2 separate regions of the Homo sapiens genome follow, and region 2 is linked to region 1. The links come from fine-mapping of genetic effects on gene expression. Tissue or cell type: atrial appendage. Region 1 holds a variant in brackets; the other region holds the start of a gene. All regions are shown on one strand. Distances are between the middles of the regions.

Region 1 (8,111 bases):
ATGCTTAAAGTACCTAATCTGCAACTTCAGAAGAATGGTTATTTGAATGCTTGACTATGCATATGAGCACAGAAATGCCATTCCCATTAAAATCAGGGAAAAGACATACTATGTAACAGTATACTAGAAATTCTCTACTATTCAATTATGCATAGGAATAAATTACGATATATAAACTTAAAAATATAAAGTACCAACACTGTATACAATTTATATAGTACACTCAGAAAAAAAACAGAAAAAATAAACTAGACATCACCTGTAAAATGGAGATGATAAAATAAAGAAATAAATAAACAAACTGGACAGCCATTAGAATTCAGAGTTCAGCAAAAAGGCCAAAAACAAAATATTTATATGAAAAATAAATAGTTGTTTTACTCCAACAATAACAAGTTAAAAATATAATGAAATAATTTATCCACAGTAGCAATAAAAATATTGCTAGCATAGGAATGACTACAATGAGAAGTATATCACCAATATTAACATAACTGCTATAATTTTCTGAGAAACAAAAGTTATAAAACATTCACTTTTTCTCAGATTTATACTTTGGTGCATTTTCACTCAGAATAAAAAAGAGAATGTTTATTAAGTGATAACATGATATGAAGACCTTCTAGAAGACAAACTGGTGGGAATAACAAAGCAAAGAAAATAATTAAAGAGATAAAATCTAAGAATAAGGGTGAGGATAGCACTAGCCCTTTGAGATATTAAGACAGTCACACATATAAGGCTACAAAAGTGAAAAAAAAATTAGGTGGGAAGCAATTATGTATGCATATATCACAGAAATAAGCTATTATATCTTTTATTTTCATATTTGAAAAAAAGGCATTCTAAATCTATGTTTAAAAATATTATCCAGTGAAGAAGTTTGGTTCAATTGGCTAGCAACTTGCAGAAAATAGAGTTTAGATTTTTAAATACCACCATACAATAAAGGCTGGGTTGATTGGTTGGTTGATTGATTTTTGAAATGTTTGATGTATTAGTTCCCAACTGGAGATTTGAATCAGAATCTCTTCTGGAGCTTTCTTCACATGCATGTTTGTGCCTGGGGACCACTCTTGGACAAGTGCAAAGGACAAGGAGTCAATGGACAATGGCTTATGTAATCTAATGTGCAAAACCCCTTCTGCCATTGAAAGACACGGAATTGAGTTCAAATCCTGACTCTGCTATTAGGTGTGTGACTTTAGGAAACTGAAACTTGGTTTTGATGATCTTACATTTCCCCAATTATAAAATGAGAATGAAAATAATAACTATTTTAAAACATTATTTTGAGGATTAAATAAAATGACTTACATAAAGTACCTAGATTTCATGCTTCTAATTCATTAAAAAATACACCGATACATGAGTTTGTTTCTCTGTCTGGAAAATCACATCTTTAAAAGTAAAACAAATTTTTATAATAAATTTAATTTTTTGCCTTCAGTTCTCAAGGGAAAAGGAGGAAGCATCACCACACACTCAGCTCCCAGCCTTTTACTTTACACGTCTAAACTTAAAATACAAAACTTAGACTTGAGCAACTGTGGTTAAAAATCTAAGAGAGAAACAATAAAAATAGAGAAGAATCCAACATATTCAGTTAGTATTTCTTCTAAAGAAGGAGAATGAAGCATCTAATATTTCTTATGCATGAAATCAAAGACATATTCAGGCACATAGCAGAAATGCTTTAATGACCTAGAAAAGAGTTGTAAAAACCCTGGCTTATTTGATTCCTCAAGTTGCACACCACCAGAAGACCACGGAGTAAGTAGTACTGAATTAAAATGTAAGCACAGAAAACTAGGTCCCAAACTATCAAAAAATGATTCCCAATTCTAAATGTTCAACCACATCTATCTTAAAATATTTATAATATTTTTTTCAAATTATCTCATACTATTCCAAATGATTAGTTTTCCCTGCTATATTTTCTCAACTTTCAAATTAAAATTCTTTGCTTTAAAGTTAGCATTGTGATTTGTCATTTTCTATATCCCATTCCAAAAAAACTCTCTAATGGAAAAAAATGTTTAGTACATTCCTTCAGTTAGAAAATTATCATTGCTACCTTAGCAATCTATTAACATTCTTGGGAGAATTCTTACTTACATCAAAAATGTGGAAAGAACAGATTTAATACAAGTTCAACTGCTTTTATGCAAAACAAAACACGTTTTATAATTTTGGTCACAATCTCTAAGTAAACAAAACTTCTATTCTAATGGAATAACGCATCTCTCATTTCTATTATCCTGACACAAATACACACTTACTTAATATTCTGTTTGTGTGCTATCACCCTTCCCTGTAATGCTAGCAAAGAGTTTTAATTTTCCCCAAAAACCTCAAACTACAGATGGATAATTTTATAGACTTTGTGATTTTCAGCACAATCACTCCTCACTGAACACTTCCTGTCACCATCTGCCTCTTTTAAGGCCAAATAGGACTTTTCTTGGCTTGTTTATTTTTCTCCACAATCTGTTGTCTGACATTTTTCTCACCACCTTCTGGCCTTCTGTATTTTTGGATAGCTGCTCCAATCTGCACTCTTCCCACTCTTGTGTCTCCTGATTTTTCCAATGGGTCTTGAATGTCAATCAGTGGGCTGTACTCATTCACACAGAATGTGTTTGCTTTACCACTGGTTGGTGATATTTGCGTTTTAAACAACACCCTTATTAAATTCCTGAGTCTATTATTCTGAATAACTACCTACATTGGTGTCATCTGTCTTAGAATGAAGGCTTAGAGGACAAAAAACTCTCAGTCCACCTGTCAGAATTCAATTCCAAGAGTACGACATGAATTTGATCTTGAGGTCCTTCATAAGTTGCACTCAGTGAAATGTGCCCACACAGAACAAAAACAAAAAAGTAAGTCAGACTTTGTTAATACTGAATAGAAAATGACTAATGGTTCTCAATTTTCCCATTCACTACAAATTATTTATTAAGTACCCACCATGTTCCAAGCACGATACCAGGGGCTGGAGATTTAATGTCTTTTTTTTTTTTTTAAGACAGACAAAATATTAAAGTTGTAATAAAAGGAACTGAACTTAAGGCCCTAGACACTTTTGGATGAGTAAAATGGTGAGGCTTCACATTTATACTGATATGATCTAGTTAACTTAGTGCTTTTTTCTACATCACTTTCTCTGGGCTAAAATCATAGTTCTAAATGAAATGCATTTTCTACCATCAAAAAAGACAAAGCTAATGATAAAAAAAAAAAATACTGCCAATAAATATTTGTGGAATGAATGAATGGCTGCCAGTTCTACTGTTTGTAGTTTTACAATCCTAAAGTCAATTAAACTCTCTGAGTCTATTTCTTCATCTGTAAAATAGAAGTATAATTCCTACTTCATTACATTGTTGAATGAAAAGAGATAATCTCTGTGAAGCCCAGGCTCTTAGAAACTGCTCTATAATGAATAGCTCTGTCTCCAAGTCAAAGGCAATTCAATAATACCAAGGGAATTATATTTAACTTAGTCCAAATATTTTCATATGGCTACACTTGACTTCTAGGAAATTTACTCATTTTTTTTAAAGTCTAAACTAAGGAGAATTGGACAGTTTCCCAATTTTTATAACCATCAACATC[T/C]TATCTGTTGCCATTCCTCCACCCCACTCACCCATTCCTTCTTCTGCCCCCTAATCCATTCCATATTATTTTCTAGTCTAAGAAAATGGCTCTTTCTTTCTGTCCCCTAAGCCCAGTGGTTTATTTGCATCTTTTGTAAATAAACCTGCCAGCTTTCTAAATAAAACCTAACTCCAGTCCTGCAAGATTACAGTGAAGAAAGCATCTCATAAGATAAAGAGAAGCTGGAGGTCAGAATTCTCTTTTTTACCAAATTCCATTCATTCATGGACTCATTGACACATTCGAAAATATTTTCTGAGTCCCCACTGTGTGCCAGGCACTGTCCAAGCTGATGAGAATACAGTGCTGAGAGAGACAGAGAAGGTCCCTGGTGCCACTGAGCTTATGGCCTAACAGGATAAACAACTGTAAAACAGGTTGATGAGGAGGCATATGTGGGGCCACCGCACTATCTAGGACAAACCTATATAACCCAGGCCGGGGGAATCAAGAAGGCGGAACCCCTACTGTGAAATCTAGTAATTGAGAAGAAGATAGCCAGGCAATGATGGGGAAGACCAGTCCAAGCAGAGGAAACGGCATGTGCAAAGCCTGGCATGAGCAGAGTTTGGGGCCTCTGGAGATCAAGCAAGTTATGTTGAAGAGCCTAAATTGTCTACCGCATATTCTCCCTTTGATGATTTCTACTGTGTTACCCTAAAGCCTCCAGCACCCTTTTGTGTAAGTGCCTCAGCCTGCCATGAGCTACACTACTGGAAATTTAAAACAATATTTTGTGTCTCCCCTAGGGGCCAGAGCATTAAGGGGAGCAGTGCCCCCACCACTAGCTAGCCCAATAGTGGCAGTGGTCACCGCCCAGAGCCCCCAGAGGGGCAGGTGAATGAATGAAGGGTAGGCAGAGTCAGGGCCAGAGGATCGGTGAAGACCCTCCCATGTGCCTTCTCCCTCCATCGCCAAGCTTAGAAGATCGTGTGTAACTTTATTAAGGAAGCCAGAAAGCTTCCCTACACCTTACTTCAGAGCAATGCTTTCGTCTCAGCTACTGTTACGGTTGAGTTGGCGCAGGAGTAGGGAAGTAGCTGAGCTGGCAGGGGAGTGCAGGCGGGAAGATTCCTTGTGTAGTCTGGGCCTTAAGTTTTAAGAAAAACGTTAACGCCATGCCTAGAACTGCAGAACCCAAGGCCAGCTTCTAATTCCCGGTTTTATATTTAGTGTTTACCTCTGGGGGATCTAGATCCTAAAGAAAACTAACTAAACAAACAAAAAAATCTGTGTCATTCTTGGACCGAAAACAAAAACTTACATTCTCCCATGTTACCTAAAAGGAAGACACAGGACTTCTATATATGTGACAAATATATATATATATGCACTATACCTGTGTACTACACAAATATGTACTATATGTATGTATGTAATATATATGTACTGTATATACTATATATGTACTAGACAAACAAATATATGCTATATTTGTGACAAATATAACATGTAACACATCACTATATAAATGTATTTGTATTAATTTTGATCTCTATATTTCTACATCATTTAAATTATACACTTGAGCTACAAAATAATTAGGTGAATAGGTGAAATAATTAGAGAATAAAAGGAAGACATGGAATATATAATAAATGTTTACCAAAAAGCTTTTACTCATAGTGAAAATTTAAGTATTAGTCATTATTAATTGTCCCAAAGCATACTTTAAAGGAAATAATGCTAAGAAAATATTAAAGATTGTGGTGACAGCTCCTCTGAGCAGGAGGAGCTGGTTTCATTTTGCTGTATTTAATCCAAATGATAAAGGAATTTAATAAAATTACCCTCTAGGTAGCAGTAGTTTTAAAAAATAATCCAAATCCGTTCTGACACAATAGCTCTCCAGAGAATAACAGTAGATCCTACAAATGACAGAGGAAGAAACTCACCTCGTCTGCTGCCCCCATGTAGAGAAAAATAGATTAACTCACTGCCATGGAATCCTGTAAAGATCATTCTCCAAAGGTTTTTCCACCAATCAGAAGGTCAGTGATCTAGAGATATTCTGGAGACCGGCACTATTAACATTTTCATTAATTATATCTATTTATGATTTGTCAGCAGCAAGGCTAAGGAGGAGATAAATTAAAGATTCAAAACCAATGCCCTGTTCAAACATATTCATTTGGAATTAATTTGTAATAATGAGGTGATTATGAGACAACTCATTCATCTGGTGCTAATTATATTTTGTTTTTTTTTTTAAATAATGGCTGTTTTTCCAATCTGGCATTTTGTAATGTCACTAAAGTTCACTTCAAAATGCAAATATATCCTAAGACAATAACCAGCTGTCCCTGCGGTCATGTGAGGTGGTACTTTTCAAGCTCAATTTGGTTTCTGGATGCATTCTTCTAAATTATTTTTTATATACACTGTAAATAAGTACATATGTGTATATATGTAAATATGTGTGTGTGTGTATGTGTGTGTGTGTGTATATATATATATTACTTTATCTCTATATCTACGTTATCCAGGATACTTTGGCTCAACATTTCTTAAGTCAAATTTTGCAGACCAGTCAATATTCATCAAACTACTTTAAGATGGAGCCAAGTGGCCTACAAGAGAATACTGCTAAGGCTGTTAACACATATAATTTATGCAGGAGAATATTCCAAGCTTCCTGACTGCATCACACTTTTAACTTTTTCTTACATTCGAAACTACACTTAGAATCATAACAAACTTCATTTTTCAAACGTTTGACTTTGAGGTGTGTACAAGTATACTCTGACTCTATAAACTTACTCTTCTTTAAAGCAGATCATCCTATTTATCATAAGATTATTAAAAATGTATACCTTTGCTTTTATTTGCCATAAAAAAAGCTTTCTTTGGAATAAAATAGATTTTTATCCAAAGATGCAGAACTGTTTTCAAGATAAATCCAATCTGATCAATTTGACAGATTAAGACTCTCTTCAATAGTAATTCCTCAAATTATTTAAATAATTTATGAAACAGTAAAGGCTTAAAATATGAATTACATAGCCTTAAAAGTTCTAGATCCTTCATGGATTTTATTTTTGGTTTATTATTGCAGGAAAATACATACAAATCTTTTGAGAAAAATAACAAAACCAAGACTTTTTTTCCCAGTGTGCTATAAGCGAGCTCAATAAATGTTTCAAAGTGAACGATTTTTCTTGTCCATATCAAAATAGAATACTCGTCAAATGCTATTAATAATTTAACTTAGAATAGAATCATAAATATGCATGAATGGAAGATCACTTCCTGTATCTCCATGCTCAGAAGACCTTTGACTAAACATTTCCAGAAAGATAAACAGCTGCCCAATTTTCAGGTATCTCCAAGCACGTCAATGCCAGAGGCTCTGAGAAAAAGAAAAGGCTTACATGACATCTTCTGTGACCTCTTGAGCTGTGTTGGTTGTCCCCTCCTCTGTGTTCCTGTTCATGCCTGTAACACAACTCCTAGCATGTCCCTTAATTATCTATTTACACATCAATTTCTCACAGGAAAGTTTCCAAAGCATTTTAGTTATCCTTGCTTTTTATTTGAGAAAGTAAGCTCAGAAAAGTTAAGTAACTTGCTTAAAGCCTCAAAGGTAGTACTGATAAAGCCAGAATTCAGCTAAGAGCTATGAGTCCAAAGCCTCTTGAATTCTCCATCATACTATGTTTCTGCCTCAAATATGGCATCACTCCTAATGAAGCTGGTGTTCAAAACATGCCTGCTAATTAATTACATGTACAAATGCCTTACATGTACATGTTCTGGGTCACCATGCTGGGTACTGGAGAGAACTGTGTGAACAAGATTCCCGTTCTCTATCCCCCAATTCTTCACTTTGGACCCAGCATCACATGGTTTCCAGGCCCGTGGACTCAGGAAAAGTGGCGTTGGACATGCAATTACAACACACTATAGAGACATGGCATCAAGGTAGAGATGAAAAGAAGGGACAAGAATAGCCACTTAAGAAGGGTAGAGTAAGAGGGAAGAGGGGAAGAAAAGAATGTTGAGGCCAGGGAACTGGCATATACAACATGTGAGAGACAAGAAAGAGCAAGTTTTGTTAAAATGAGAAAAGCCCTGTAGAGCTAGGGCTCAGAGAGTGCAAGTGTGACACTGCAGAGGTGTGCAGGGACCCAGCCAGAAGAATCTCAAGCGCATGCGAAGAAGTCTGGGTTTGATTCTAGGTGTAACAGTGAGCACCTGCAGGGAATTAAGCAGAGGAACGTTACAGATTTTGGATTCGAGAAAATCACTGGTTATAACGGTGCAAAAAGAAATGGAATACATGGCTGCTTAGAGGCTGGGAAGCCAATGACTGAAGCATTGAAGAGGTGAAGATGATGACTCTAGAACTTCTTCCCAGCATACAGATGTAAATAGATCACTGTTTACTTTTTAAACATGTTCATATTTTTTAAATGTGAAGAAACATACCTTTCTCACCTCCCTCAGAG
Region 2 (8,111 bases), 38 kb after region 1:
GACCCAACATTCAGCTGGTCAACAATCAAGCTGATTCCTAAGATGTCATCACAGAATAGGTTTGGCTATTCCTCAATGACCAATTCAAAATGGAATTTGCTTTGCCTTTTGATGAATTCAAAAGTTGAACATCTTGCAAAGAAAGTCATTTTCAGGAGATAACCTCAACTACACCCCATGTCCTGTACCAAGCATGTATAAAGATCACTTCTTTCTGCTCAGGAAGAGAGCTAATTGTATCAACAAACATCTCTGTCCAAAAACTGCTAGTCTAACAAAGTAAACCTCTAGCTTGCTTATTCTACCACAAGAAAGGGCTTTTTGTGGGTATGTTGTTGTATTTTCTTGGAGTTCTTCTGTTACGACAACTAAATCCTTAGAAATCCACTGTTTTTTTAATGTTCAGGAAAAGAATCTAGATTAAGAAAACTAATCAACAAATCTGACACCTCTCTTGCTGGAAAATAAAACAAAAGTGAGCAATTTCACCTCAAAATTTCAGTCAAGTAAACACATTTCTTAAGTTCAATATTATTTCCTAAAGCTGAATCAGAAAGGTTATTTCAAACCAAAAAATAAGGTACTTAAAAGGTGAAAATAGTAAAGACAATTGGCCCTTTTTCAAAAGCAGGGGTCCTAGTGAAGACAGATATCTATACCAGCTATTTTGGAATTTGTAAATGTCAACAAACTGTACATTTCCTGTCTTTTGTCATCAATTCTTCAATAATCCAGTCTCCCTGACCTGCTGACCTACTGTCTTTTGTCATCAATTCTTCAATAATCCAGTCTCCCTGACCTGCTGACCTACTGTCTTTTGTCATCAATTCTTCAATAATCCAGTCTCCCTGACCTGCTGACCTTACTGTCTTTTTCTCCAGTCCTCCCAAAGCCGATCTTGCAGCCTCACATCCCTTTATGCTGTTCTTCAAGCTCCCAATTCTCTATTGCCCTCAGGGCAAGCGACTATCTTCTGTGTTATCTTCTATGGGTTGTGCAGAGGCACAACTCACAGACGCCTGGTCCACCTTGAGTATACAGGTGCTCAAAAAAAACACTGAATGAGCCCACTTGTACCTCAGAATAAGTATTCCTTTTTACTTCTTAAAATAGTTTAACCTAAAAGAAACTGAAAGGCCATTTAAGAATGGTGAACATTTTCCTTTTTCCAAACTTCCTTAAAGTTAATTCACACAAGCACCATCAAACTTGTATACTGATCAGATCTCTATATTTACTAGTTTCCTGAAGATCTCTAACCTCCTTGACGCTCATAAAAGGTGATGGAGGGGGATATCACCTTGTACTTTTGTTAGTGTTGGTTTATAATAGTTTATTTCTACTTTTAAAAATATAAGGGACACAGACATTTTGTATTCTATTAGTAATACCATAGACTTAGAGTCTCCTTCATTTAAAAAGGAATTGTAAAGTACATATTGTACAACACTTCCGAGTTTGTCTCTGTAAGAGGAATTCAATCAACGTATTTTGAATGTATGAAGAATAAAACATTTTATTTTAATACACTGTGTTATGCAGCTATTGATGGATTCATTTTTTCCACACTGCATATTCAGTATTTTTCCATAATGTAGATTATTTCATAATGTATATTCAAGCCCGCTGTGTGCCAAACATGAGCTGGGTGCTGGAATCAGGGTCCCCACTTCATACAGCTTGCAATCTAAAAGAAGGATTTGCAAACCTTGATGAACTATATATTCCAGATACTTAAGCAAAGAAATCATTGTTTTCATTTTCTAAAGCATATCACATTCTAACTGTAATATCACTTTAAAATTTTATTTCCAAATTTGAAACAACAAAAAGTTAAACATTAGCTTTCATATAATCTCTTGAAGTAACAACGCAAAAAACTCTGGGATCAATCTACAAAATAGAGTAACAAAGGGTTCTCATTAAGTAAGCAGCAGGAGACTCACAAATACTTACATTAGCTTTAACTGTGCCTAGGATATCTTGGCTTTGGTTATTGGATTTAGCTGAAAATCAGTTATCACATTTTAAATTTTTCCCTGTCTTCAGATAACAGTATGAAACTAAGTTTCAAAATGTCCAATCCTACATGCTGAATCCTGGTAGATAAGAGTAGTTAATATTAAATGTTTTCTAGGATCTGATCTTAGAATTTTGACAGCAAACTTACATGAACCTTTTTTTCTTATATTATTTGAAGGTAAGAAATATTTCCTGAAGATTTATTCTTGATCAACCCACCTACTATATATTTGAAGATCAAAATGTCTATTGATCACTTATTTTAATCTCTTCTCAGTTTGGTTCTTACGTATCATTATAAAACTATACTGGCCCTGCACTGAGAATTTTTAGCCTACTTTTCTTGCTTGCTTTGTCATTAAACAAAAATTAAGCATCCATCCCATGCTGATATTATTAGCACAGATTACTTTAGCTGTACCTTGATTATCAGAAGACCAGGCCCAAATTATTTCCTAAGCAGAAACATAACGAAAAAAGTCCCAAGAACATTTTTAAATACCTCTTTATTAATACTAAATGCATCACAATTAACATAAACCAAAAGGTGCTTTAATATACTCCTAGGAAAGACGAATACAGATGGTTATTTGGGAACATCAGTTGGAATAAAGACCCCATCACAAACTATTCATCTCAAATGGTTATAGCAGAGAAAATGGAATACTCCTTTTTCCTTGGAAAGGCCTTGTGCAGTTTCAAAATCTGGTTTCAAAAGTCAGAAACCACTTTTCACCCTGGTAGGAGGAGGGGCACCAACGTATCTTTATACACCACCACCCCAGATTGGCAATATCCCTAAGATTCCCCAAGCATCCACAGCAGCGAGTGTACCTAATACGTATACACACACAGGTAGAGATGGGTACACAGAGCCAATAAACTGGTCCTCTGGAAATTAGAGAAAACATGATAAATGACTCTTTCTCCCTCGTTCTCCTTTCCTCTCAATCACTGCCTTCTGCACCTTATCTTTCTACTCTTGTCAGCAAGGAAGACCAACCCCCCTTGCGGGGGACTCGCAATCATTCCTTTGGGTTTTTCACACAGCAAAGTGAGAGCGACCGCTGGGGTTGCGTGCGTCAGGATTTGTTTTTTCTGTATTGCTATCCCCCCCATCCCCCGCCACCCCAGCCTCCCAAGCCTATACTTACTAGAGGGTGGCCTAAGGTCTGGGGAGATGGGATTGGTGCTGGGGGGATGGGACGGGAAAGCAGAAATTGGGCCACTGGCGCTCTAAGTCGGGTTCTTCCCCATTTCCATCCCTCCCTCCACTTCCCACCTTCCACCTTAGATACCTTTTACCAAGAGGCACCCCTGGGCCCATCCCTCCCTCCTTCCCCCACCGCCACCAGTCCCACCCTCTGCCGCCCCCCTCCGGGATGCCCCCAGGGCTGTCAGGGGGCAGCGCCCTTACCAGGCTCATGGACGCCAGGGTTGTCGGACAGCTCGATGACCAGGAGCTCCCGGCCCTCGAAGCTGCGCCCCACCGTGTAAATCCTGCTGATGGCGGTGCACTGCAGCCACACGGACACGAGCGCCTCGCGCAGCTCGGGGTAGCGGTGGTACTCGAAGGAGATGCCGTCCTCTTGCTGCAGCCGCCGGCGCCGCCTCATGCCCGCCGCGGGCGCCCCGGGCTCCTGGGCTTCGGCGCCCAGGAGCCACCCGCAGGCAGCCAGTGCCCCGCACAGAGCCAGCAGCGCGCTGCCCCCTCGCCCGGCCATCGCTGCGCTCCGCCGCCGCCGGCCGTGCCTTCCTACGCGGGCGGCCTCTTTTGTCTGCCCGGCCCTGGGCTTAGCCCGCCGGCGCTGCTGGGGGCGGCAAGTTCCGCACCAGCCTCTACTCGCCTCACCTTCCCCGGCTGAATGAGTGTCAGCCCGCGCACTGGGGCCACCCAGAGGAGACGGGCAAAGCCGCGGCTCCACGGGCTGCACTACTGGCCGCGGAGCCCAGGGGAGCTGCAGGAGAAACCACTGCGAGGAGGGGGCCGGCGGAGAGACGGGCCGGCGTGGATCTGGGAGGGCTGCTGGCGTTATTTGCTGGCTCGGAACCACGTCAACAGCCAAATGGCGTCCGGGACGACGCAGGTGAAATGACAGCTAAGGTCCGGGGTTCGGGAACGTTACTGTCATTGAGACACCCATGACCCACCCACGTCACTGCGTATGGAAAAAATATTCTTGTATTGTTAGTGGAGCCTTTTAAAGGGACATCTATTCCAAGCCTACCAGTTTCCATCTTGATCCACCAAGAATTAGAGAATATTCCAGAAAAAAGGAAGTACTGGCAGCCACTTGCCATCTCCTGATGCGTCTTTCATAATTGTATCAAGAGTCAAAACACAAACCCAAGGGTTGGGTTTTCATTTATTAGAAGGTCTTGCTGGAAATCAGAACATTAAGTGCTTTGATTTAGAGGTTTAAGAGAATAGAAATGCTTTCTTCCAATTTGTAGATACTGTCCTTAATTGTATTTATGCACATTCCTAGATTCTTCCAGAAAACAAACAGACAAAATAAATAAGGCAATGTCATATGGCTGTGCCTGCACCAGCCCTCCTCTTTAATACTATGGGGAAAATAAGTACAACTCTGCTGATGCTTTAGACAAAGGATTTAGTTTGGCATTAAGATTAAATCCTGTTAAGAAAACTCTGATGATGACATGACACCTCCGTTCCTTTTGCAAAGCTATTGTAAAAATAAAAAATCATTTACAGCTTTAAATATCCACCCCTTAGTCGGGATTTATATTCCTGGAGCAATGTCTGGAGCAGATGTTACTCTAAAGAGGCTGCTGTTTGGATTCAGGGACAGCACAAATCTAAATTAATAAATAATCCATTGGGTATTGCAACCGAGCAGGAAAAGTGGACACCATGCGGGTAATTTTCCATGTTAAGCTTCTTTGTTTTTCTAAACTTGTTCATTCTTCACCTGTTTAACAATGCATTGCACATAATAAAAACTTTTACGTGGAAAAGGAGTTAGATATTTAAGTCATCTTATTGGATCAATAAATAAAAGCACAGACATGGTTGGTAAGGTGCTGCTGGAGGGGCTGGCTTTAAACACCCCTATGTACATATACTACAGCAGCATGGATCTTCTTTTTTTTTTTTTTTTTTTTTTTGCGTTTTCGGGGAGAAACTGTCACTGTAAACACATGGCACTCAAGTTGAATTGATGTGGATCCAGCCATTTTTTTTTTTGTCAATGTAGGCAGAGCTAAAAATTGTATATTTTCCACTATGACCAGTCTGTGCTTGATTACATGGTCCAGAAGTTTGAAATCAAACTTATAATTATATTTCTAAAACCATGCCCAAAACAGCAACCTTGGAAGCCTAGAAAAAAAAATTGAGTAGCTAAAACCAAATAACTTCAGAAGTAGGAGGTTAAGATTTTCATGTTAGCAATTTAGAGTAACCACACTAATTTGTGGCTAGGTGGGGCATACTGACTAGTAACTACACACATAAACAACATATTTTTCATTGAAGTCCTGTGTTGTTCCTTAGCTGTCTCTTTGAACAAAGGATATGCGTTCTATTTTCTCCAAAATAAAAAATTTTGGAATGAAAACTTGGTCTTTGAATTTCTGGGCTATTTTTAGGTGTAGGTCAGCTGTACCAACTTTACTGGCATATGTATTACTTGTTTGTGGCTTCATAGGCAATTATACAAAAGATTATATATCCACCCTGATTGCTGGATTTAAAAAATTTTATTTTGGAGAAAAAAAAATTGTAATGTGTAAAATCATGCCTACTATGTGGTCTCACTTGTTGGGCAGGGGGTTCTCTTTTACAGCTTAGTTGTTTGTTTCCCTAATCTATAAAATAAAAGGTTTGGATTTTTCACTCTCTAACGTTTGCTTGCAACAGAATCATGTAGAGAGTTTATAGAATGTGCAGATTCTTAAGCCCCTATGAATTCATCAGGTCTGGGGTGGGTTTCAGGTATTAACAAGCTTCTAGGTTTTAAAAAGAAGACCAGTCATTTCTGATGTTGATGTTTGATTGACAAAGACATTTTGAGAAATAATGTACTGTAGGTTTCCCACTGTCTCTTTCAGACCTAAAATGCTATGATTCTGGAAATTTTCTTTTTGAAGTGAATTCCTGCTCATTTGATAAATGGTGGCACTCCTCACATATTATTGGTCGTACTACATACACCAAGGCATCAGTTCAAATGAACTAAAATTTGGTCTTTGAATTTCTGAGCTATTTTAGGTATAGGTCAGCTGTATCAACTTTACTGGCGTATGGATTACTTGTTTGTGGCTTCATAGGCAATTATGTAAAAGATTATATACCCATCCTGATTGCTGGATTAAAGAAAAATCTTGTATGCCAAGTCTTTAATGTGTGTACACATAGTTAAATTTAGTATGCAATCTCCATTTCAAATCATGTGCACACATGCACACACAAGAAACAAAAAGAGAAAGAAAGAGCTGCTTTTTCTTCATGTCATTATAGGCATCCATAAGAGCATATTTAAACTCCCTAGGTCTCCCTCCACTTCTTGCTTCACCTCTATTATCTTTAAATTAAGAAACTATCTTTTTCTTTATCAATAATATTTTATTTCCTTCTTTCAAAGCCCTTCCTAAAATTCGTCTACTTCATAAAAATTTTGTGAACACATAGCTCTATATTCATCCTGATGTGTGCTGGTAAATGTCAGCTGTCTGGGGGGAAAAGTCTGACTTAGAATGTTTGCTAATTTCCATGGTTTAAATATTCCCACCATGGCTGATTTCAAACTACCAATGTTGTATCACTGAATACAGTGTTAGGAAGAGATATGCAGTAGCATGACATCATATAGTGTTGTGATGGGACAATTCTTTATACTCCTCCTTTGCAAGTGATGAAACTTAATTTCTTCCATCTGAGTGTAGGCAGGACTTAGTGGTTTTCTCATGAACATAACACAGCAAAAGTAATGAGATGATCTTCCAAAATTAGGTTATTAAAAAGACTGCAGCTCCCATCTTAATTGCTCTCTCATGCTTGTGTGTGCGCTCTCTCCTCCCCCTCTCCCTCTCTCTCTCCCTCCTTTCCTTCCCCCAGTCCCCCATCACTCCATCGCTTGTCTTGGGGAAGTTGTCTGCCATATTGTGGAGAGGCTTATATAGCAAGGAACTGAGGCATCTGGCAAACAGCCTGAGAGAAACTGACATCCTCGGTCTAGCATTCAGTTAAGAACTGAGGTCTGTCAACAACCATGTGGGTGGGCAGGGGCAGATCTCAGCCCCACCTGAGCCTCAAGAGGGCTCCATCTCTGACATCTGAGGTTTACCACAGCCACATTAGAGACTCTGAGCCAGAACCACCACTAATACATACATCTCCCCCATACAGATACAATAGACATAAATAACCTCAAGAACATCAAGGATAGAGTGATGTCAGCAAGATAGCAGAATAGGAAGTTCCAGCCCTCATTTCCCAACAGAAACACAGATTTAACAGTGATATAAGTAACAAATTAGCTTCATAAGAAGTTCAGGATTAAGTTAAGAAATTTCAGTACCCCAGACAAACAAAAAATCACAATCAGCCACACTGAAACAGATAAGAAAAGCTATTTCACTTTACCTGCGAGTACAACTCAGCACCAGAGAGACTACAATCCTTTCCTGGTGTAGGGAGGGCAGGGGATAGAGAGTAGGGTGAGCATCCAACATTTCTGGCCTTTCAGTACACCCCTCAAGGGGCTGGCTTCTGTTGTGCCTCTTACAGAGTGCTTAAAGACATGGCATAGTCCAGATGCCTGGGAAAGCTAGGAGAATGGGCACCTTCCCATGGCTGGCAAGGCTCGGAGAGATCTGTAGAAGGCATAGAACTAAGGCCTCTCCTTCAGGAAAGAAGGAGGAGTGGATCATGACTCTAATGTCCTGAGCCTTTCAGTGAGCTCCCTGAAGAGCTAGTTTCTATCTCATCTCATATGGAGCACAGATGAGACTGACATGGGAACCAGAGGGAGCAAGAGATTGCTAGTGCTGAAAAGAAAAGAAAGGAAAAGAAAAAAGAAAAGAAAAGAAAAAGACTGAACACCTGGATCAGGACCTAGGAA

The links. PIP is the estimated chance that this variant, and not a neighbour inherited with it, causes the effect.
Region 2: it holds the start of CPE, and the variant in region 1 is fine-mapped to the expression of CPE in atrial appendage (GTEx, PIP 0.98).

What each region holds. Positions count from the first base shown.
Region 1 is chr4:165,412,694-165,420,804 of GRCh38, reverse strand. All of the region lies in intron 1 of CPE (carboxypeptidase E), which reads right to left. Among named protein-coding and RNA genes, the nearest start is that of MIR578, 31 kb to the right of the region's middle. The variant T/C (reference allele first, on the strand shown) is at 3,622.
Region 2 is chr4:165,374,857-165,382,967 of GRCh38, reverse strand. CPE (carboxypeptidase E) reads right to left here and starts at 3,960. Exons shown (of 9, transcript NM_001873.4): 1 at 3,440-3,960. The coding sequence starts at 3,746. RefSeq lists an enhancer at 1,644-2,188 and a silencer at 3,668-3,927.